Linked DNA regions of Homo sapiens: all the other regions are linked to region 2. Evidence: fine-mapped expression QTL. A gene starts in region 2. Each other region holds a variant in brackets. All regions are shown on one strand. Distances are between the middles of the regions.

The links. PIP is the estimated chance that this variant, and not a neighbour inherited with it, causes the effect.
Region 1: its variant is the best candidate, but not a certain one, in a credible set for the expression of DIO2 in thyroid (GTEx, PIP 0.83).
Region 3: its variant is the best candidate, but not a certain one, in a credible set for the expression of DIO2 in nasal epithelium (TOPMed, PIP 0.65).

The regions. Positions count from the first base shown.
Region 1 is chr14:80,122,877-80,131,064 of GRCh38, forward strand. No RefSeq gene overlaps it. Among named protein-coding and RNA genes, the nearest start is that of DIO2-AS1, 84 kb to the right of the region's middle. The variant T/C (reference allele first, on the strand shown) is at 4,855.
Region 2 is chr14:80,207,233-80,215,420 of GRCh38, forward strand. DIO2 (iodothyronine deiodinase 2) reads right to left here and starts at 4,272. Exons shown (of 2, transcript NM_013989.5): 1 at 4,019-4,272. The coding sequence starts at 4,240. DIO2-AS1 (DIO2 antisense RNA 1) reads left to right here and starts at 4,187. Exons shown (of 9, transcript NR_038355.1): 1 at 4,187-4,256.
Region 3 is chr14:80,390,819-80,399,006 of GRCh38, forward strand. It overlaps DIO2-AS1 (DIO2 antisense RNA 1), which reads left to right. Exons shown (of 9, transcript NR_038355.1): 6 at 3,165-3,368; 7 at 6,212-6,361. Among named protein-coding and RNA genes, the nearest start is that of DIO2, 180 kb to the left of the region's middle. The variant T/C (reference allele first, on the strand shown) is at 4,729.

The DNA.
Region 1 (8,188 bases), 84 kb before region 2:
TAATATACCACCCATCCCATTATAGGCCCAGAGGCCCAAGAGGAAAGACTAATACACCACCCTCCCATTATAGGCCCAGAGGCCTAAGAGGAAAAATTGGTTTAGTAGATCAGGCCCAGGGCCTCATTGTCCTACACAGCCTCAGCACACTGCTCCCCACAATCAGGTGCTCTGGCTCCAGCCTCAGCTCAAAGTGCTCAAAGCTTAGGCTGCTGCTTGGGGAATGCAAGCCACCATGAACCCTAGCAGTTTCCACATGGTGTTAAGCCTGTGGGCATACAGAATGCAATCATAAAGGAGACTTGGCAGCTTCCCCCTAGATTTCAGAAGATTCGTGGAAAAGCCCAGGAGCCCAGGCGCCCAGGCAGAAATCTGCTACAAGAGTGGAGCCTCCACAGAAAACCTCTGCTAGGGCAGTGCTGAAGACAAATGTGGAGTTGGAGCCCACACACAGAGTCTCCATCAGGGCACTGCCTAGTGGAGCTGTGGGAAGAGGGCTACCGCCCTCCAAACCTGAGAATAGTTGTTTCATGGCAGCCTGCGTCTTGAGCCTGGAAAAGCTGCAGGCAACCAACTCTAACTCATGAGAGCAGCCATGGGGGCTGCACCCTGCAAAGCCACATGGGTAGAGCTGTGTGTGGCCTTGGGAGCCCACCCTTTGCACCAGTGTGCCATAGATGCAGAATATGGAATTAAAGGAGATTCTTTGGGGGTTTAAGCTGTAATGACTGCTCTGCTGGGTTTCAGACTGATATGGGGCCTGTAGCCTTTTTCTTTTGGCCAATTCTCCCTTTTGGAATGGTAATTTATACCCAATGCCTGTGCCACCATTGTATCTTGGGAATAAATAACTTACTTATTTATTATCTCAGAGGCTCACAGGTGGGAGAAACTCATCTTCAGATGAGACTTGAGACTTGGGACTTTTGAGTTAATGCTGGGATGAGTTAAGACTTCAAGGAACTTTAGAAAGACATGAATGTATTTCGGAATGTGAGAAGGACATGAGATTTGTGGGTCCAGAGGCAGAATGATGTGGTTTGGATGTTTGTCCCCTCCAAATCTCATATTGAAATGTGATTCTCAATGTTGGTGGTGGTGTGGCATGGAATAAAGTGATCAGATTATATGGGTGGATCTTTCATGAATGGTTTAGTGCCATCCCTTTGGTGATAAGTGATCTCTCTCTCAGTTCACAGGAGATTTAGTTGTTTAAAAGTGTGTGGCACCTTCTTCCTCACTCTCTTACTCTGGCTCTCACTATATGATGTGCCTGCTCCCCTTTGGCCTTCTGCCATGTCTGCGAGCTTCCTAAAGTCTCACCAGAATATGAGGAGATGCCAGTGCCATGTGTGCTGTGCAGTCTGCCAGGACCATGAGCCAATTAAACTCCTTTTCTTTATGTTATCCAGCTTCAGGTGTTCCTTTATAACAATGCAAGAATAGCCTAACACAACTCCTTTTCCAAATAAGATCACTTTCACAGGTTCTGGAGGTTAGCACCTGAACATACATTTTGAGGATCGCTACTCAAGCCACTATGCCCTGTATTAAAGATAGCTGGCTCTGTTTGACTTATCTATCTAGGCACATTTAAGAAGCCAGAGATTGGCAGCCACCACCTCCACCGAAGTGGATTTAATGCTTGAGGATCAGAAGCAAAGGAGAGGACTAGAGGGCAGGCATGCCTGCTGCATCTGAGCACATTCAGTCCAAGAGGTCAAGACAGAAAGGCATTTCTATTGTTAGTAGTGCTCTCCCTAGAAAACTGTGGCCCACTGGAAGAGGAGTTCTCACTATTCAAATTCATGACTCCTTATCCTAGGGGAAAAGTAAGAAAGATACAGAAAGTGAGCCAAGGTGTTTATTCTAAACAACTCCTTAGCTTATCGGGAGAAAAGAAGCAGTCCTCTCCTCCACAGAAATTCATGAAAGGACAATGGGTTTCCTCACTAATTCCTCATTCTGGTCTTCAAAAAGAAATGCACTAATATGAGCTAATAGTTTAAGTTAGTCTATAATGTTTGAAAAGTTGGCTCCAAGTTGATACAAAGATGTATTCACTCATTAGTCATTTATTTAGCAATGTAGGCTAAGCACCACCTACGTTCTGTAAATATAGGGGTAATGAGGTAGTCATGATCCCTGCCCAAATGGAATGTATAGGGTAGTTCGTGGGACAACATACTATATCATAATTACCATCTTCCATTGTCTAAGTGTTCTGATATAGAAGCAAAGACCAAGGATCTTGTAACCTAGTTATTCAGGAAGTGGCACTAAGACTTAGACCCAACTGGGCGCAATGGCTCACTCCTGTAATCCCAGCACTTTGGGAGACTGAGGCAGGTGGATCACGAGGTCAGGAGATCGAGACCATCCTAGCTAACCAGGTCAGGAGATCGAGACCACCCTAGAGATGGCAAAACCCCATCTCTACTAAAAGAAATACAAAAAAATTAGCTGGGCATGGTGGCATGCACTTGTAGTCCCAGCTACTCGGGAGGCTGAGCCAGGAGAATCACTTGAACTCAGGAGGTGGAGGTTACAGTGAGCCGAGATCACACCACTGCACTCTAGCCAGGGTGACATAGCAAGACTATGTCTTAAAAAAAAAAAAGGACAAAAAAGGACTTAGACTCAAAGAGAAAGTAGTATGTTGGTAAAGGAAAACAAGACAGGCAGATAGCAGGTGAGAGAGAACCTGGAACTGTAGCAGCTGGTGAAATAAACAGATATTAGGAAACAAAGGGTCTTGTACACATGTTGAGGTGTTTGAACTTGTTCTACAAGCTTTGAGGACTCTCTGAAGAGCTAGTGGCATGATCAGATTTGCATGTTGAAATACTCACTTCTAACTACAACATGAAGAATTGATTAATGAAAAGCAGAGGTGCAATAGCCAATTAAGAATCTCTTGTGATAAAATACAGTTGTTTATTTGTATGTTCTATGTGAAAATGAACCAAAATCCACTGTGGACCTCCTATTCAGTTATCCCCGCCTCTGATTCCACAGTCTGTGGGTCACAGTGGCTAGTCTAGGGTGGAAGGAATTTAGGGGTTGCTGCTTAAATTTCACAGTGATGCATCTTCAGCCTTCAGATTGGCTTAAGTCAAAGGAATAAATTATCAGTCTTTGTATGTAGAAACTGACTTCAGGCATATCTGGATCTGGGGATTCAAACAATGCCATAAGAACAAGGTCTTTCTGCCTGGCCAAAACGGTGAAACCCCGCCTCTATTGAAAATACAAAAATTAGCCAGGAGTGGTGGTGCACACCTGTAATCCCAGCTACTCAGGAGGCCAAGGTATTGAGAATCACTTCAACCCCGGAGGCGGAGGCTGCAGTGAGCCAAGATCATGCCACTGCACTCCATCCTGGTCAACAGAGTGAGACCCTGTCTCAAAAAACAAAACAAAACAAAACAAAAACAAAAACAAAAAACAGATTGAGGTCCCTCTCTCCATTTTTTAAATTCTGCCCTCCTTCATATTGACATCACCATTGGTGATATCTTCTCCAAAACTGTGGCTCTTTTAAATTAACTCATGGGTTGCATCTTCCTAGCTTCATAAGCAGCAGTAAGAGTGCATTGACTCTTCTAAAAATTATGAAAAAGTCCTCCCATTAATACAAATTGGATCATATGTCCAACTCTGAACCAACTAGCATGTTAAGAAAATAGAATATATTTCTAAGGTTGGTTGTGGTTAAGGTGCTCATCCCTGAAGTGGGGCATAGGCACATCTTATATGAAATAGACTAAAAGTGAGAGACAGGCAATGGTTAAAAGGAAATCATACGTGTCATTATTCTGTAAGTCTCAAAAGTAAAGGTACTGGATTCTGGACTAACAAAAGGTTTCCACCACACAACCTCATTCTTCTAATCTGTCAAACACAGATTTATATAATCAATCTATATTTTTTTCATTAATAATCTCAGGTTGTGTACAAGAATCCTAGAACTTGTGAAAGAACCATTATGAAGGCTTGGGCTTCTTTCTGGGTAAATTCGACCTCTCGGTTCAACCAGATTGTGGCATTATTTGCTGTGCAGCAGCCAGGTGGACTCCATTCTGGGGCAGAGAAGCCTGCCAGCTGATTATTCCATGTCCCATTCTAATTTAGGTCTCAAAGAAAATTGTCACAGCCTTGAGTGAAGCCATCTTGGAATCAGGGATTGAGACCAAGAGAACAATGGAATAACACAAAGCCCAGGGCTTTGCCTTTCTCATTGGGGAACTCCTGTATTCCATGCAGAGTAAGAGTCAAATCTTACTCTACATGGATACAAATCCCATATCCATAAAATGCAAGTCAATCCCTGAGAGAATCTGTGAGAGGTACACCAGTTATCTTGGCCAAATCAATGTCTAAGAAGCAAGGAGTCAGAACCCTGGCCAGCAAAGATGGAAGGGCGTCCTTTTGGCTGCAGAAGCCACCTGGAAATTCAAATGCAGCGGTGAATACAGTGGAACTCCTGGTGGCTAACACCACTGAACAGCATTGCATCACAATCCAAAATGCCTTTCTCTGGCTCCTCTTCATCAGCCAAAGAATCATGAAGTTACAGTGAAAAATATAACTTTTCTTCAGGATGTCCATAATTGGAATTTTGAACAATGAACTAGAACTTGGCATCAGGGACCTTTTTTTTTTTCTTTTCCATAGCAGGCATCTATCTTTTCTGGCTGATTAAGGTCTGTTTCCCTTTATTGTAAAAATATTCCCATCTCAGTGATGCAAGTGAGATTCCAGGAGTGGACATGAGGACCTGGCCTGTGCAAACTTTGGCCACAGTGACTGGTTCAATGATGAGCATGTGACCTAATTAAGGTCAATGAAAGT[T/C]ATACCTGGGACTTTTGCTTAAATTATTGGAACTGAATGCCCTTTATTCTCTGGGACATTAATATGGCAGGATGTAAGCTCAAAGCTGATGAGTAAGTGTCTCCACATGGAGACAGAGAGAGAAAAAGCAATAAATTCTTGATGCAGATGACCTTTTTTGAGCTTCGAGATCACCTTCTGCTTAAAGTCAGATCTATTCCTGAGCTTTACCATTATGTGAGATAAGAATCTCTCCATTTTTGCTTCAGTGAAATTTCAAGCCCCTGCAACTGAAAGTTTTCTGTCTAATACAGTTTCTAAGTCCTCAAGGTGCCTCCACACTCAGATTCAAGGTATTCAGAGCATGGTATTAAGTGGAATCCTTTCCATGTGGAAATATTAACAAACAGGAAAAGTGAGCCTCCACTTCCACCCAGATCTAGCTTAATCTGGAGAATTAGTACAGAGGGAAAGTTTATGCCCTAGTAAGACATGCAGCATGTATTTGTTAAGATAAAATTCTCTTTTATCTTCGCAATAGGACAATTATAAAATGAGCAATAGGGACATTATAAAACGATCAGTAATTGTGATTGACTTTTTATTTTTATTTTTAATTATTATGGGTACATAATAGTTGTATATGTTATTGGGTACATGTGATGTTTTCATACAAGCATACAATGTGTAATGATCAAATCAGGGTAATTGAAGTATGCATCACCTCAAGCATTTATCATTTCTTTGTGTTGGAAACATTCCAATTTCACTCTTGGTAAATGGAGTATCCATCACCTCAAGCATTTATCATTTCTTTGTGTTAGAAACAGTCCAATTTCTCTCTTTTCATTATTTTAAAATAAGCAATAAATTCTTGTTAGCTATAATCACCCAATTGTGCTACCAAATACTAGATCATATTCATTTTATCTAACTGTACTTTTGTACCCACTAACTATTACCATTTCAGCCCCCTCTCCCTGCTATCTTTTCTAGTCTCTAGTAACCGTCACTCTACTCTCTATCTCCATGAGTTCAAAAAAAATATTTTTTTTAGCTCTCACATATGAGCGAGAATATGTGATATCTGTCTTCCTGTGCCTGGTTTATTTCACTTAACATAATGTCTCCCAGTTCCATCTATGTTGTTACAAATGACAGGGTTTTGTTCTTTTTATGGCTGAATAATATTCCACTGTGTATATACACCACATTTTCATTATCCATTCATTCATTCTTCCATTGATGGACACTCAGATTGATTCTATATCTTGGCTACTGTAAATAGTGCTGCAATTAACATAGGAGTACAGATATCTATTCAATATACTGACTTTCTTTCTTTTGAATATGTAACCAGCAGTGAAATTGTAATCCTAAAATATATACAAAACCACAAAAGACCAGAATAGCCAAAGCCATCCTGAGCAAAAAGAACAAAATTAGAGGAATCTCATTTCCTGACTTCAAATTATACTTCAAAGCTATGGTAACTGAAACATTGTGGTACTGACATAAAAACAGATACTTAGACCTATGGAACAGAATAACTCCAGACATAACTCCACACATTTAAAGTTAACTAATTTTCAACAAAAGTACCAAACACATACACATTGGAGAAAGGATAGTTTCTTCAATAAATGGTGCTGGGAAAACTAGATACCCATACGTAGAAGAATGAAACTAGACCCCGTCTCTTACCATACACAAAAATAAAATTAAAATTTATTAAAGACTTTAATTTGGGGTCTGAAACTATGAAACTATTACAAGAAAACATTGAGGACATCCAGAACATAGATCTGGACAAAGATTTCTTGAGTAAGTTCTTAAAAGCACAGGCAACTAAAGCAAAAATGGACAATTTGGATCACATTAAGCTAAAAAGCTTCTGCTCAAAGAAATAATCCGAATTGAAGAGACAACCCACAGAATGGGAGAAAATATCTGCAAACTACTCATTTGACAAGAGATTAATAACCAGAATATATAAAGAGTTCAAACAACTCAATAGAGAAAAATAATCTGATTAAAAAAATGGAAAAGGGTCTGAATAGACATTTCTCAAAAGAAGACTTATGAATGGCCAAAAGGCATATGAAAAAATGTTCAACATCACTAAAAATGCTCAAATTTGATTTGAGAAATGCAAATCAAAACTACAATGACATATAATCTCATCCTAGTTAAAATGGTTTTTTTTAAAAAAATAGGCGATAATGAATGCTGGCAAGGATGTGGAGATAGGGCACTCCTCATACACTGTTGGTGGGAATGTAAATTAGTATAACCACTATGGAGAATAGTATGGAGGTTTCTTAAAAACTAAAAATGTGATTGCAATTTTCAGAGAACATTTTATCAGGGAGCTGAGGCCTTAATTCTGTCAGTTTAGTCAAATGGTATCCACTGACCTACCTGCCACCTCAATCATTTCTTTGTTGCCTTTAATATGCAAAAAGTTGTGGGAGGATGGTCTAATGTTTTGGCCAGTTAATTGGAGAAGATAAAGTTTAATTGCAGGTCAGGGTCTATATTAAAGTGATTTGGGTAAAGAAAGGGTAACACAGTCTGTTTCCCCATTCCCACACTCTCTTTTAACACCCTATGTAGTTAGAAAGTAATGAAACTGACAAAATTGTGTTATAAGATTGAGTGAATCACACAAAAAGAAGCAGCTCTGCTTGGGTAACTTTTAGAAAGAAGCCATTTTAGCTACCTCTATACAGGCCGAGCCCCATTCTGGAACCCTGAGGTTATCTACTATAGCTGCCTAACAAACTACTTCCCAAAACTTAGTAGCTTAAAAAAGCAACCATTTTATTTCTTCACAGTTCTGTCAGTCAGAAATTCTGGCTCATCTCTCCTTCTCAATGTTCCTTACAGCATGGTAGTCACAAAGTTGTAAAAGTTCTTTCATGACAACTGGTTTCCAAAAAATAATACTCTGATAGAATACGACCCATCGTACAAGCACTTATTGAGCCTCTGCCTGAATCATGTTTGCTTATATCCCTTTGCTCAAAGCAAGTCACATGGTCTAGCCCAGAATCAACATGGAAGGGGATAAAGCAAGAACATACACAAGGAAGCGAGATTCAATTGTGAAGGAAGGGCACTAATAAATCAAGTCTACCATAGGCTTAAATACTGAATTTCTCACAAAAATAATGTGCTTTTTTCCAGGTGCTTTATAGAGACTGCAGGTAAGCAGTAATTACTGGTTCAGGAAAGGAAAAACATAGTAGCCACCAAAACATTGCTGCAGTTAAAAGATTGTCTTATGAATATAAGAGAAGTATTTTCTTGGGTACTCTGAGAAATAACTACAGAATATCCAAAGGAGTGCTAA
Region 2 (8,188 bases):
CATATAGCATATATAAAAATTTGATTCCCTTGATGATGTTCAGTGTTCAGTGCATGGGGAAAAAGGAAATGCTGCTTTAGCATGTGGACTGTGAAATGCAGGGCAAGGGGGAGAAAAGAACCATTCATCAAGTAGAAGCAGAAAATACAGCATATACTACTAACCTTGTTTCTTGTTTTGGGATTTTATTTCTTTTTCTTTTCCACAGCCTGAGAAAGCCTTGTGGACAATATATCACATAATCTCATAACAGAAACTAAAGCAAATTATAAAAATGAAGGGTGGGTGTGTGGTAGCAGAATTTTCACACATACTACTTGCTATCCAAAGCCCTGAAAATGGCTTTATTAACTATCAGGAAGTTTCAAATTCTTTGACATAATGACCAGGCTACATCAATGTCCTTAGAAACATGGCCAAACTATCATTAAGAAGAGATTTAACCATTTATATTCAGATTGGCCAAATAAATCAGAGTTGAAGAATAGGCTACGTACTCCTTCCTCTGAGCTCAATTCCCTTTTAGCTATTCTCTTTTTAATTTGTACCTTGAAAATGTAGCTCTAAGCTCTATCATTCCCCAATGTTTTATCCAAGTGATGGACAAGCTCTGGCTGTGGCCTGCTTTGTGTTCTTTTGGGACTGTTTCTCTCTTAAAAGGGCCATTTTCCATTGTGGAAACTAGTGTCAAAGGCTTGAGGTGAATGAAGAGGAGGAGGAGAATGTTAAAGAGACCCTTTCAAAACCAAAATTATATGTTCAAATGAATATGTTTTCTGTACCTCTGCAATATTAACCGTGCAGAAGCTAAACTGCCTGTCAGCATCTATACTGTGTGTTTACTTTTACACTTCATTTAGGTAAGAGCCAGGCTCCCAGACAGAGCAATTTGCTTATTGGTTGCATGTTTTTAGTCTCTGAGCGCCAGCACAAGGATATACTGTTCAGATGCAATGACGCTGACTAAAGAAACTTAAATAACAAACACCTTTTATTCACCTCAGGGTCTCTCACCAGTGTCTATAGACTTTCCTTTCAATCAAAATTGTACACAGAATCCATCTCTTACTAAACTCACATTATCTTTAAAGGCTTCTCCATAAAGTTAATTCAAATCCCTTTCAACCTTTTAAGAAAGGGTTTATTTAAAAAAAAAAGAAAAGAAAATATTTTGTTCTTTCTTTATTTCTGTGTTGCCCCTTGTGGAGGCAAAACACAGGGATAATACTTTTACTCCACTTTCTCTACATATCTTTCCAGGCATCTGACATGCAGCAACAAGGAGAATTAATAACAGTAAATCACATGTGTAGTTGTATCACATGAGCACACACCCCTCTCATCCTGGAAAACTTCACTTCTGGGGATGGGTAGCCTCAAAATAATGCAAGTCAGGGTTATGAAATAGTGTGATGCCATCTCAAACAGAACCTCTTACAACGTCTCTGGAAATGACTACACCCAAAGACAGTGGCACAAATGACAAGAGCATTCAGAGAAGTGATTCAACCTGGTTGAGAGATTCTGAGTGACCCTCAAATGCCACCACAGAAACCACCACCCTTGCCATACTTGAAGACAGAAAAGAGACCATCATTCAGTTGCAGCTGTGTTCATAATGTTTCCATTTATCACACACCCAGTCCAGTCTTGTTTCTGGATATGTGGGTCCTGGGGTTGCTTCTGCACATGGTAGCTATTACATAAATCATCAAAAGCAAACATAATAACATCAGTCGTGAACTTGGTCACTAATCAAATCAGTAGGCAGGGACAAAGAAATACAGAATAGGAATATACAAACCATATGCAAAAAGAAAAAACAAATCACTCATCCTTCCCAATTTCCTAGAATAGGAATAACAACATATTGCAACATAATGGAACACTATACATTGGTGAAAAAAACAATAAACTTTATTGAAGACGTATTTGTTTGCTTTTCCATTTTATGTTCAATAAGCTGCTTAATGGGAGAAACAACCTCACTTAATATTTGTGGGTAACATTACAGCCCCCATTGTTTATATGAGAGATGACTGTTTTTCATGTTTTTCTTAATGAAACATGACATTTATATAAGAAATATATGTATATAAGTAAAATTCTTCCAATAAGTTTTTTTTTTTTTACTTTATAGGCAAAAGGCAATTGTCCTTCCAAAAAGTAAGAGTTTAATATACTGAGATCAAATCACTGATATTTCCATGGTATCTGCTAACACGTATAAAATATGATGTTGAAGAGGGAACTTCCTAATTAATAATATGTCTGATATACTTGTGTACTCCTCCACCTGCCTCCAAATTGCCTTCCACTAAAACAAACCATTAAAAACTTCCCATTCAATGTATACTTTTGTGGAAATGAAATAATCAATTCAATATCTACTTTTCTAGATCTCCCGTCCTCACTGACATGCACAATATAAATGAGTTTTTACTGTTAGAACTTTGAGCACCAATTCATATTCTCATAAAAGAATTTCCATCTACTAATAAGAGCTCTTACTATTCACATTTTTAACAACAATAAACACAAACCCTCTTTGGGTTACTATCAATAATAAAGACGTGCATTGTGGTAAAATTTCCCTAGTTCACAACAGATATTTTCTTCTTGAACATCTGATTTTCAGAAGAACAATCCTGTCCTGAATTCTTTGTAATTTTACAAGTTACTTCTTCTCTTTTCTTGGCGCATGGTTTTAGTTTTCTAGTGTTTATTTATGGAGGATGCATTCCCTTGCGTCTCTATTATTTCGAGTTCCCCGTCTCTGGTTCTAAGGTGCTGCCTGCCTAAAACACACCACTTCACTGAACACCTGGCTTCTATATTCCTCTAAAATACAGATGTACAGTTGCTTTTTCTGGCATCTTGGGCAAGGTCCCACAACACTTTTAGGGAAACCAAGATTGTCTATTTTGATAACTACTTTTGCCAAAATAGTTCATTCTTCTCAAGCCTGGTTGAGGGGGTGGAGGGGACCTTTAGAAGTCATATGGGCATAGCAGGTGGGGGAAAACTGACAAAAGACCAGGGCGAAAATCATCCTCTGTGCCCCTGAAGATCTTAGTTGAAAATGCTCTACTAACATCTCTCACCAGCAAAAAGCCTGGAACACAGTATTTTTCACTTAGAAACTAAGATCACTACCTCTGATTTTGAGAGAGCAGCCCCTGGGCACTACCTGAGCAGGTAAGGGAGACCACTGCTCTAATGCTCATAACAGCTCTGAGATTTAATGAATCACAGACCCATCATCTCTTTCTAGGGCAACGTATTTTATTTTTGAGAAACAAAGTAAAGGAGGCTTCCCTTACAAATGCTGGATTTCTGACAGCTAGTTTTCAGACTTTTCTTTCGCAAGTTGATATCTAGTAACTCAGGATCACTGCCTGAAAATCGCTTCCAAAGGGTTCAAATTTGAATCAATGTAGAGGAGGTGGCACACAGCTGCTTGCTTTCATTAACTCTTACCTCTACCAGAAACCAAGCAGCTATGATGCCCAATCACAATTTCTATGACCACTTTCTTATCTTGTCAACTCTCTGAGAGTTCTGAGTAGCATTTCTCATTTCTTGCTTTTCAGTACCCACCCCTCGAACATACTTCCTCAGTGTACCTCAGCCTCCCATCAAGCAAAAAATCAAAATTCCAGTTTATGGCAAGAGCAGAATAAATGCAGCAGTCTCCTCTTCTCCATCATTTTCTGACTTTTCCCAAGTTATCGTACCAGCACAATGCCTTCTACTCCCAAATCACAGCAAGATATTAATAACCCTTAGTAGAAAGATTCCTTATTAGGTCACACAGAGTCATTATGGCTTAATAGCTGTCACCCTCCCAAGCTAACCTGTGCAACAGGTGTGGAAAGTAAACTTAGAGGCTCACTTGGCAACCCCACAAATAGGGCTTCACAGCTCTCCCCCCAATGCTCCCAATGGCCTCTGGTCCCCAGCATATGAGCCCCTGCCCCTGTAGACCTAGGGAGAAGCCCTTCTCAGCTCAGCTCACCTGTTTGTAGGCATCGAGGAGGAAGCTCTTCCAGACGCAGCGCAGTCCCTCTGAGGTCAGCATGCGCCGCCACTCTCCGCGAGTGGACTTGGAGCGGCTCAACAGCAGCACCACGTGCTTGAGCAGAATGACCGAGTCATAGAGAGCCAGGAAGAGGCAGTTGGAGAAAAAAACTGGCAGAATTTGCAGTGTGATCAGCAAGTCTACGCTGAGGATGCCCATCTTCTCTGCCTCCTGAGTCAGTTCCCTTGTGCGCTCTGGTTCCCCTTCACCCTCTTATTTAAAAGGGGGGTGGTGATAAAGGGGGTGGGGGAGGTAAGGGGGAAGGTTGGGGGTTGGGGGAGAAGGGGAAAAAAAACTAAATTAAAAGGAAGCCCAAGTTGTCTCCTCTTTCAAAGAAGCAGAAATGGCAAGACTAAGTCCAGTCTCTCCAGCCCAGCAGTTGGAGTGTGCCCATCAATTCATTCAATTCGGAGCTGCTGCCTTTTTTTTTTTTTTTTTTTTTTTTTCAGGATTTAAGATGTTAAAAAAAAAAAAAAAAAAAAAAAAAAAAAGCTGGCGTACTCGTCCCTAATCCAGTTACCTCTGTCAGAGTCCGTTAAAGACAGGCAGTTCTACTTTCATTTCCAAGCACCTATGAGACTGTGGCAGAGATTTTAAAATTTTCTTTAGCCTTTCATTGTCTCTATGCTCTTTAAACGTAGCCTGTTTCTTTCTTGAATTGCCAGAGTTTTTTTTTTTTTTAAATGTGCTTTAAGGGTAGTTTTTTTTTTTTCTTTCTTTACTCCGTTTTACACACACTTTCTGTGCTTCTCTTTCTCCCAGTCTCACTCTCTCCCTTCCCCAGGAGCGACTGACTCCTCTTTTTTCTCACTCTCTGTCTTTCCCTTCTTGCTATCTGTCTGTGGTGCAAAGTGCCTCTCTCTGCAGCCCAGTGAGTCTCCCTGACGCCTTTTATACATTCCCTGGCTAATTGCTGCAATAGAGAAGTGAAAGCCTAATCTTGGTAAAGATCTTGACGTCATTGAGAAAGAGGGCTTTACTTTGGCCAGGATTGCAGTGAATAGAAAAGCAAAACTCGACAACTTTTTTTTTTTAGAAGGGGTTGGGGAGAGACAGTGGAATTTTGCTTTGTGATTTAAAGAGAGAAAAAAACTAATACCCTTGACAGCCTTCAGGAAATGCTTCCAAACTTTGGGAAAAGTAATTTAATATAATGTGCAGATTGATATGGCCAACACTCTCTCTTCTGATTATCATTATCATTAATTTATGAGGGGTTTTGGAAAGAAAGGATCCTGGAAGGCAGGTAGAAAAAAGGAAGAGTTATCACAGGCGGTCTTTGCTCTGTTTCTTGGAAAATATGAACATTTATATACAATCTTTATACCTTTATACCATGACTCCAACCCTTTGTAAGATCTGTGACCTAGGTCCTTTAAATTTTTTTGAGTCATTATCTTATTTAAGAAAATGCAAAATGAGTTGTAGGTGGAAAACTTGTAAACTATTTGAGTACCATCCCAGCATTTCTTTAAAGCTTCTTGCAGAAACTTGAATACAGGTTTCTTTTTAGTTTTACCCAAGCTTCTAATGAAAAAAAAAAAAAAAATCCAAGTTCCTCCAGACAGGGAAGGAGCTAGGCGACATTCTTTTAGCTTCATTTTGCAGATAAAATTAAAACTTTCCATTGAATAGCATTAAGAAGCCATAAGGCTGAGAAATTATTAATGAAAGCTCTTTAAATTTGGTGTTTCACCTGCTTCTGTTAGCATAACCCCTAAGAGACCTGATACTTTAAGGAATCTTCCTTTTTGTTTGAAAAAAATTTTAATTAAATGTATGGGAAGTTAAGAGCCGACTGAATTGGTTCAAGGTGCCACATTGACCATTGTTCATTGGCTTGCCTCTCCCATGAGTCTTTAGGACAGGTATTTAGGCAGACAATGCTTTGGCAGAATGGCATGACCCCCACTTTATTCTACTTTTTCATCCTGTGTTACCTAATAGATCACTGAGTTTTCTCAGTGATAGATACTGAGTTTTAGATACTGGGTAATAGATAGCTGAGTTTTCTATGTAGCCAGAGCTTAGGCATAAGCTAAGCAGTAGGTGCAAGCTTGTGGTTAGCGTATTGCGTATTTTTTCCATGTGGCTAAAACCTTCATGATCACAGAAATAATTTAAAAGCCTAGACAAGAGTCATTAATTTGTCGTCCTGTTAGCTGAATTCTGCATATTAATGCATTTTGTTTGGTTGGCAGGTTGCTTTTTTGCCTTTAAAAAAACAATAATCAAAAAAGAATGCCTTTAGGTTCCGTGAGAGCAGGGATTCTTGTCCACTTTGTTCACTGCTACCTCCCCAACACCTAGAACCATGCTTGGCGCACAGTTGGCTCATTGAGGACGTCCTGAATGAATGAATGAACAGGGCATGTAGAGGGCCTCTGCATTGCTCTACACTAGGGGGCACCATTCACATACAATATGATGTGAATGGGGGTGCCCTGGAATTGTAAAACGTGGTGGCCTTGTGCAATGCCCTCTCTTGTGACACAACCCTCAGCATTCCCTACAAATTCTTTCATTTTTTTCATTAGTTTGGCTCCTAATGAGTTTTGAATTTGCATCTCATGGACGAAATTGTTAAAAGACTTCAAAGCTTAGAAAAATAATATAAACCACATAGAAAAATTACACCTTCCCTATGACTAGCATACAATGTTAGCAAAATAATATTACTAATATATGCAATGTACATTTACTGCATGTATCTTCTCAAACTACTCAATGTCCTTATGGGAAAAAAGAAAGAACAAAGGCAGGGAGTTGATAGCACAGTATTTTAACTGGTGGAGATGTGAAAGCTATATTGCCATAGTTCCCACCAACAATGGCAGAAGGAGGTGTAGACTCAGGAAATGCTGCTTCCACTCAATTGCCCAGGCCTTAGAATCTCTCCCCTTCTCAGACCTTCATTCTACCTTGATTGAATTAAACCAGTGCTCCCCTGCAGTGGAGACTTCAGCAGCTTTAAACCAATTCTCTCTCACTTGCTTTTGCTCTGAAGGAGGAAAGTATGTTTGTAAATGGCAAGCTAAGGAGAGGGATTGATAGAAAATCAGAAAAACCTTTCTTTTAAATGTGAAGTTCAAAGCATATCCAGACTTTAAGTGGTTATAAGTTAGAATTAGGACTCTGTTGGGGGCTTTTGTTTCTTTTTATTTATTTATTTATTGAGGTTAGAAGTGTTTGAAGGGAATTTTTTTTTAAATAGGAGAACAAAAAGATACACAGCCAATCTGGTTATGTCATTTCTCAGATTTCTTCAATCATTTTTCTAAATGAACGATAAACACATCACAAAACTGAGGGCCATTCCTCTAGCAGATAGACAATCTGTCCATCCAAGAAATTACATTTCTCCAAAGCTATTTCTTTTTTTATGCATGGTGCACAATTGCTCATTCCAGTTATTAAGAATATTTACCACATTGATTTTCAAGTAATTTTATACTCATTAAGTAACAGAATAATCCTAAGGTGACAGAGTATGACTTTTCCCATCATATAGATGAGAGAAAGCAGATTACCAAAATTAGGGAGTCCAAGCGGGTGTTGGGATATTTTCCCTAACTCTAAATAAGCCTCACTTTTTTTCTTTAATGTCTGTTATGGGTCCTGGTCATTACTATGAGAACCAAAACCCTTGTTGAAAGTGGTTTGCTAGTAATTTAATCTTCAAAATGGCAAAGGCTGTGAGGACTTCACATCTGTTTAAGACTGTCCCGACTCAGGCTCCTTGTTTAGATTTCATATGTTCTTTCAAAGGGCTTGGCTATCTTCTTGGTCATGTATGTGTTCTTAGCAATCAACATGTAATGAGTTAAATGCAAACCAACGAGGGGCATGTCGGTTGCATTTCCCCATACGATATTCCACACGGGTTTTAAATTCCAAAGAGAAGCAGCCTAGGGCAAAATGCTTTGGGCTTTTTATGAAAAAACCTTTGCAAAATTGTTTAACTTTTTTATATTCCCATAGTAAAAGAGCATCATGTCCTACTGTTGCCTCTTTCTGGTTGGAAAATAACAAGCATATGAGTCACAAGACTTTCTTTAGTCCTCTTCTTGACTCTAAAATTGAGATTGAGAAAATAAAGTTGGATAA
Region 3 (8,188 bases), 180 kb after region 2:
CTTGCTAGCCTCATAACTGCTACTGAAGAGAAGATCTCTAAGAAGCATCAGCCCAGAGGGCTGCTCAAAGGAATTCAAGAATGTGGCTGAAGCTAAATTTCCTTGGGGACTTAAAAAGTTGCTGTTATTTGAGCTGGCACATAGCCAGCTTTGTTGTGCTCTGCAGCAAGTAGCTTTGCATAGGGTTAAGAAAGTCAAATTCCTCAAACAGAGGAGGACCCAGGTACCCAGTGAGTCAAGACTATGTCACACACAAACACAGACATATACAGTCTGGAAACCCTGCATTCCTGTAGCACAGTATGTCTCCACCTCAAAAGCATGGTGCTCTTTTGTTTTGTTCTCTTTCTTTCCTTTTCAGCTAAATGGGTTTTGACAGTGATGAGAGCCATGTGGGTGGTTGTCCTTCAGGTTTTGTCAATTGTATAAAACTGACTTGCCATCGTTCACCTTCTTCTAAATTTGCACTTTTCACTATAGGCATGATGTATGTCAAACCTCATTACAATGAAAACCTTTGAAAGATAGACATTTTCATACCTCTTAACTATGATTATGAGTTTTTTTTTATTTAGGCAATACACAATACAATAGGTTTTCCTTTTAACAAAAGTGTCTGGACAATCCTTGGGAGTTAATCTGAAAGAAATTGGTAACTATAAGTAAGGACAAATAATTTTAGAAGAAACCAAGTCTTGTCATTGACATAGCACTTATTTTCTCAATATTATCCCAGAAGTTCTGCTTATCATTTACTGATTTACGTGGAGAAACAACATATGGGAATGTTTCCATGTGAACCTCAATTTGCTTTCTATACCATCTCCTGGTTCCATCTCTTATTTAAACAAGTTATTTTACTTGGATAAACTGCTTGTTATTCTTGTTTTGTTTTGTTTTTACATGAAACGGATAGATTGTCTCTTAATTTCTTTGTCTAATGGGACCCAAATTAATAACACATTCTTCTGAACTTGAAGATATCTATAGCGTCAAGAGCATGAGACCAAATTGGCCAACTGACTCCCTCGTGTAAAATGAGGCAGTTGGCCTTTCTGTTCACTATACCCTAAAATCTCTGATCCCCTAAAATTGCTGATACTCCTCTAAGAGGATCAAATATTCACATTTTCCAATATATTTCATGAGTTTTTTCTATAAGGTCCAAACTATTCCATTTAATTCTGTTTAAACCAATTGATTTGTTGACTTAGTTAACAAATACATATTGAGCATTTGTATGTTCCAGGCATTTTGCTAGATGCTGCCCTTAAGAAGTTCATAGTCTATAATTTTACATATTTTATATCTGATACATATTTATGTTTTTAAAAGCTCCATATACTCTCATGTAGCAATTTCTCCATTTTGTTTATGTGTGTTAGTGTAGACATGCCCAACTAGGTCTAACACCCTTGAAACTACAGATATCTTCAAGTTCAAAAGAAAGTTTTATCAATTTTAGACCTATTAGACAAAGAGATTAAGAGACTGTTTCATATAAAAACAAATAAATCAATAATAAAAAATAATTTATCCAAGCACATTAAGGGAATACTATAGCTATTTTTATCACATTTTTCAGGTAAGGTAGAAATCAGTAATTTAAGTGCCTGATTGTGAGTGAAGATGGGTGGAATGAAATCCAAATGAGATTGGAGAAACATATTTTCCTGCAAATTCTTTCTCACTAATTCTTAACCGTATTTGCCTGGAAGTGCTATGTCACAAATCTTTAACCATTACCAATCATTACTTAAATTTGTACAGAAATCTAGTATAAAGTTAGATCAATCAGGCAAATAAATTCAGATTTCATTTCTGATTATATTTTTATCAAATTCGAATAGGCTTCAAACTCCATTAGCTAGATTTACAATTTCTAATCCAATTCCTGTAAGACCCTATAAAATGACCTATGAGTTACCGGTATTTCTAAGTATGCTAGAATATTATATTATCATTGCTTTCTATCCTGTATCTTAGAAAACACAAAGCTATTCATAGGCATAGACATTTTAACTACATCAGATTTAAGAAACACTAGACACATCACCATGCCTCTGAATATCTCCCCAACTGACAGAAAATCATCTTCTGAATTTCTCTATTAAAGATGCCTTTCTTGGGGCTCAGATGCACAGTCATCAAGAATGGCCTGATTACAATAACGATAGCTATTCATTCAGTGTCTAGGCTGTTATAGATATTGTGATTTCCCTGTATGTATCTAAAACATCCTTATAAAGTATTATCTCATTTTCTTCTAAGATAAAGGAAGTGAAATGAGGGTGGTCACCTAGATGGGATGCAGTGGAGCCAGCATTTAAACCCTATGCTCTTTCACTATGACATCTTGGGTCACTCTATTCAGCCATCATCAGCTTTCAGTAGTCCATTGTAGAATATTTTACTAGATTATTCTTCAAGATGTTTGAAAATAATGCCAGAAATATTTTTAATAGTAGAAAAAAAAACCCAAGTGATGCATCTGGGAAATGGGGCATTTCTCAAGGTGATAATAACTGAGCTTGGTTCTCTAAATAAAGTTATTAGCTAGAAAAAGACACACAACACAAGACTACAAGATTTGGAGAAAACAAATACAATAATAATAGCTAGCATTCACTGAAAACTTACCATGTGCATCCACTGTCCTAAATGCTACCCATATCTTAACTCATTTAAGCCTTTAAGATCAGAGAAATATACCAAATTTGGAGAAATCTCAGGGAAACAAGTAGACAAGAAAATAAGAACATTCCAAGCAAACTCTTCCTACTTCAGGGACACTCCTTTGCCTAGACAGATACCTTGAAAAGTGACCCTGTAACTATCTGGACACATCACACTCTTCTAACCAAGAACCTACAACCTTAAATAAAGTATATTACCTATATAAGAAGCAGAGACAAATCCAGGTTTGCTGGGCTTAACAGTTATGCAATTTGGGAGTCCCCTCACTAAGAAAAAGAGTACAAAATTGTGGATGCAAAAGTGCTTGTGAAAATCACTGTGTTCATAACTGATTGCTAGTATTTTATGTTTTTTTAATTTTACAAGAACATATGATCACATCAATGCACCTCAAGAGCTCTTGTTGAGACTTGGAAGGGGCCCGAGCAAGTGAGGAGTCTAAAGCTTGAGTTTCATTTACTTCACAGTATATCTGCTTCTGACAACAAGCAAGACTGAAGTTAATCCATTTAGCATGATGATGAAAATGAAGTCATCAATGAAGTTGCAAGCTTAGGATATCCTTCACATTAACCACCAGTAGCCCAACTATTTAACTAAAGGAACTTTGTAATATCTGGACTCAGAAACTGAGATAAATGCCATAACCAATCATCCAACCGGAGACTGAGGTACATGTAATCAGGTTCAAAAGTGACTCTAAAGGTACTTGCCTGGCAGCATGACAAAGTGGCATATTATTACACTCCTTAAACACTTTGTGAGAAGCAGCAATCACGTCTCCCTCCTAAATGTATCCAAACACATCAGAGCATTAGACAAACAACTCTAGACATTTACCACATTTCCATTCTTGTATATTGACCCAAGGGATAGGGAGGGACAAGGCTTGGTGAGGCAGAGAGCATCCTGTTACACATAACCCACCCAAAAGTACAGAATTCATTTCTTGAATTGCTATGACACCCTGGGCCCCTTTGTTTCTCAATAATAGATGGACTCATGTTTCCTTCCACCTTATAAAAATTCCCTTAGAAGGAATTTAAATGCAGTCTGTGAGCATTAAAACATTCTTTACTGGGACCACCCATTCATAATGCTACCCTAGAAAAGATAAAGAAAAATGAAATCTAGATATAAGAACCAAAGGGATCAGGTGAACAGGATCTTAATCACTTCCACAGAGAATAAGCTAGTGAAATGAACTAGCATGGTTTTCCCTTCAAAAGCAATCCTGAAATGAAAGAAAAATGTCTTATGTTGGGTGAAACATACATTTTTAGATGGTAGACACAAACTGAATTATTTGCACCCTTAGATTTTTTGAAGGCCAGAGAGATCAAACATTTCCCTGCTGTTTGTTTGATTTGGTCTGAGGTGAAGCCAAGAGATGTGGTGATGGAAGCTTGGAAAAACAATTAAAAAGAAATGTATGCAGTGGTTTTTCTGGGATCCTAATTAACTGGCCCATTTCTAGGTAACATTAGGGAAGTTGTGGGCTGTGATTATTATCTCTTTAAAGTCCTAATTAAAATGTCAAACTGTAAGGTAGAAAGTCTTCAAAGCTGCATGTAATTTGATTGTGTTGGCTTATTGGAAAAATGGCCTTGGAAATACAAATAAACCAGCCACTAAAAAGATCCCAGAAGTCCAGGCTTTTTTCCAGAAGTATAATCTGTTGAACCAATAGCATTTTATAACTAACCACTCACCAAGTGGTAGACATCCAAATGTCAAAGCCTGTTTCATAACATGGTAACACATAACATGCTGCAGAAGAATGCCTCTCCATTGCATATTTCGGTTTGAAAAGGGTGTTTGGGGTTAGTTCACCTACAAATGCTTATGTGCTTATCACCCAGACTTAAATGTTCTTACTTGGTGAGCTTCAGAAGTTGCCGGCACCCTACCCACTTTCCAAATTAGTCTGCTAGAGTTTTGTAGCTCTAAAAGAATCCCTGCATACTGTGGCAGACTTCTGTTATTCTGAAGTATCAAAATCTCAGCAGAATGAATTCCCTATCACATCTG[T/C]GCATGGGTATTAGAGAAGCTGCCCCTCACTTATAAAACTCAGGCAGATATGACACGTTGAGATGTTAGTAAGAAAAAAAAGCCAATCAAAAACTGGCTTAAACAACAAAGACACTGGTTGTCACATAGCAAGTACAGCAGTGAATACAATATCTCAACGACATCAAATGACCTACTTTCTTTCGATTTTTCCACATTGCCATTCTCAGACAGTCAGCTGCTCCTCTCATCATCACACTGTGGTTACATCAGTTCTACGCATCGTCTCCTTATAACCATTTTGAAAGGGAGGAAAACAGGAATGTTGCCTCCCATGCATGTCCTTTTATCCTTTCCTAGAAACCCTTCAGCACACTTGCCACCACACTTCATTCTCCATAGTTGTATCATATGCCCATGCCTAAACCAATCATGTTCTTTCAATGGCAATTACTGTGACTAGAGAGCTAATCAAGACTCATCTCCACTCCCACAGCTAAGGAGGGATTCAGTCTCCCCTGATGTACATGCATGTCATACTGATATTGAAAAACAAATTATAAGTGTATTTGCAAGAAAAAAATGGAAGAAACGCTGGGTAGGACACCAACATTGCCCACCCCAGTAAGTGGTACATCTACTGCATCACTGTCAGTAGGTTCCAGGCGTGGGCAGATTTGTATTGACATGTTGATCACAGTCTCTCTTCTATCTCCACTCATGGCAACATGTTTATAAAATACCTAGTCAAGGCCTTTGGCCATGAATAAAAGAAAAAATTATTTCCACCTTGAAATTCCTCTATTCATTCACTTGTTTATTCACAAATATAGATTGAGCAGGCCCTGTACTCGACATAACAAGAACAAGCAAGACATGATCCGTAATAGGAGTCAGCTTATAGTCCAGTGGAGAGAATACATAAAGGCAAATGAGCAGTGTCATATCCCCTTTGATGGGGAATGTACAGTACTCTAAAGTACTTTAATAGTAAAGTATCATAAATGCTTTGATAGCAAAAGTCCTGGGGAATATAGATGCACATAGATGTACTTTATCCAGTTTCCTAGATGAAGAGATCACTGAGGTAAGAAACGAAGATACAAAGGTGAGTTGTAAGTAGAAAGACTTAAAAGGAGACTAAAGGAACCCTCCAACCTTGGTGCTTCTCTAATTAACTTCGACTAATTTAGCTAACTTCTCAAGAATACCTATACTGCTAAAACAGCGATTCTTAAATTGGAGTACATGAATGTAATTCAGAAGATGAGTAAACTTAAAGAATAAAAAAAATACATCCTTGTTTTATTAACGCAACTGAAATTTAAGATTTTTTTTTCAATAATAAAAATATTGGCAAATAATCAATCTGTACTACAGGGTCCCAGACTTAGGATTTTACTTATACCGGACTTGTGATTTTTCAACTTTACAATGGTGCAAAAGCAATTTGCATTCAGTAGAAACTATACTTCAGATTTTGAATTTTGGTTTTTTCCCCCAGGCTAGCAATACATAGTATGATACTCTGTCACGATTTTGAGCAGCGGTAGCGAGCCTCAGATTCCAGTTGGCCACATGACCATAAGGGTAACCAACTGATACTCTACCATGTACTATGTTCCCAGATGATTTTGCCCAACTGTAGGCTAAGGTAAATATTCACAGCATGTTTAAGGTAGGCTACACTAAGCTATGATGTTCTGTAGTCTGTCGCATTAAATGCATCTTAAACTTAAGATATTCAAATTATTATGGGTTTATTGGGATATAACTCCATCGTAAGTCAAGGAGCATTTGTATTATCATTACCCATGACTTTATCAACAATAGAAATCATAGATATTTCATATTAAATTATAGTTGGTGCAGACATGTCAAAAAATATTCAAATGTATTTCCCTTATAAGACTTACCACTAGATATTGTTCTTTAAACCATTAATGTAAATAACATGCTTTTTAAAACATTTGGTTACTGTATTCCAATATAATTGGTTTCATATTTTATTTTCTATTTCTATATATTTTATTTAATTTTATTTTATGCATCTAAAGCAATAGTCAGAGAAGGGGTTGATAGATCTCAGCAGACTGATAGGGATGCATTTTTCCCTCAGATCAGACATGAGGGATTTGGAAAAGGTATAAATTTACTTTTGTTATAATTAACCTGCCCAATTAAATTTTGTGTTTGATTTTTAGCACTGTTAGCTGACGTGGTTTGGCAGTGTCCCCACCCAAATCTCATCTTGAATTGTAGCTCCCATAATTCCCATATGTTGTGTGAGGGGCCTGGTGGGAGGTAATTGAATCCTGGGAGCAGGTCTTCCCCATGGTGTTCTCTTGATAGTGAATAAGTCTCATGAGTTCTGATGGTTTTTTAAAGGGGAGTTCCCCCACATAAGCTCTCTTGCCTGCCACCATGTAAGATGTGCCTTTGCTTCTCCTTTGCCTTCTGCCATGATTGTGAGGCCTCCTCATCCATGTGGAACTGTGAGTTCATTAAACCTCTTCCTTTTATAAATTATTCAGTCTTGGGTCTGTCTTTATTAGCAGCATGAAAATGAACTAATACCTTATCCCTGTGGAAATAAAATATTCTTTTAGGGAAGCAGTAGAAGCTCTCTGAGTCTATGAGTTTGTCATTTTCTTTTTATAAGAGATTCAGTGCTATCAGAAAACCCATTCCACACCAAAGTTCTTATAATCATTGTTACTGCCATAATGGTCAAGTTCAGCAGCTTCTTAGGCAGTTGTCTCAGCAGGCACTTCATCACAATCACTAATAGTGGTAATTTGATTGAATGAATTGCTACTACATGCCATAGATTACTAGTATATAATTTCAGCATTGTGTTCAAACCCAAGAACATGAAGAAACCAATTTTGAAATCCCATTTTGGAGTGTCTGTTACCTGAGATCACTTGTGGAATCAATTTCTGTATCAGTCAGGGTCCAAGCAGGAGACAGAAACTATATCAGTTATTTGAACTGAAGGAATTTAATATTTAACAAATTAGTTCAGTATAAACTTGTTAACTAACACGGCAAGAATAGAACACTGAGTTATTGTTCAGTAAACTTTGAAACAAAGTACTGTTAGCAAATATTTTACTATATTATTGATAGTAAATATTTTCAGCTTTGCAGTCATGTGATGTCAAGTACTGAAAAAGGTCTGCAAAAATATCTCAAGCACTGATCTTAAGTTTTACAACAGTGATGTTATCCCTAGAAGCAATCTGGGGAGGTTCAGAATCTTGCAGCCTCTGGCTACATGACTCCTAAACTGTAATAATCTTGTGGCAAATTTGTTAGTCCTATAAAGACAATATAGTCCCCAGGCAGGAAATGGGTTTGTTTTGGGAAAGGGCTATTATCTTTACTTCAAAGGTAAACTATAAACGAAGTTCCTCCCAAAATAAGTTTGGTCCACCATCAATGAACAAGGACAGCATGGAAGTTAGAAGCAAGACGG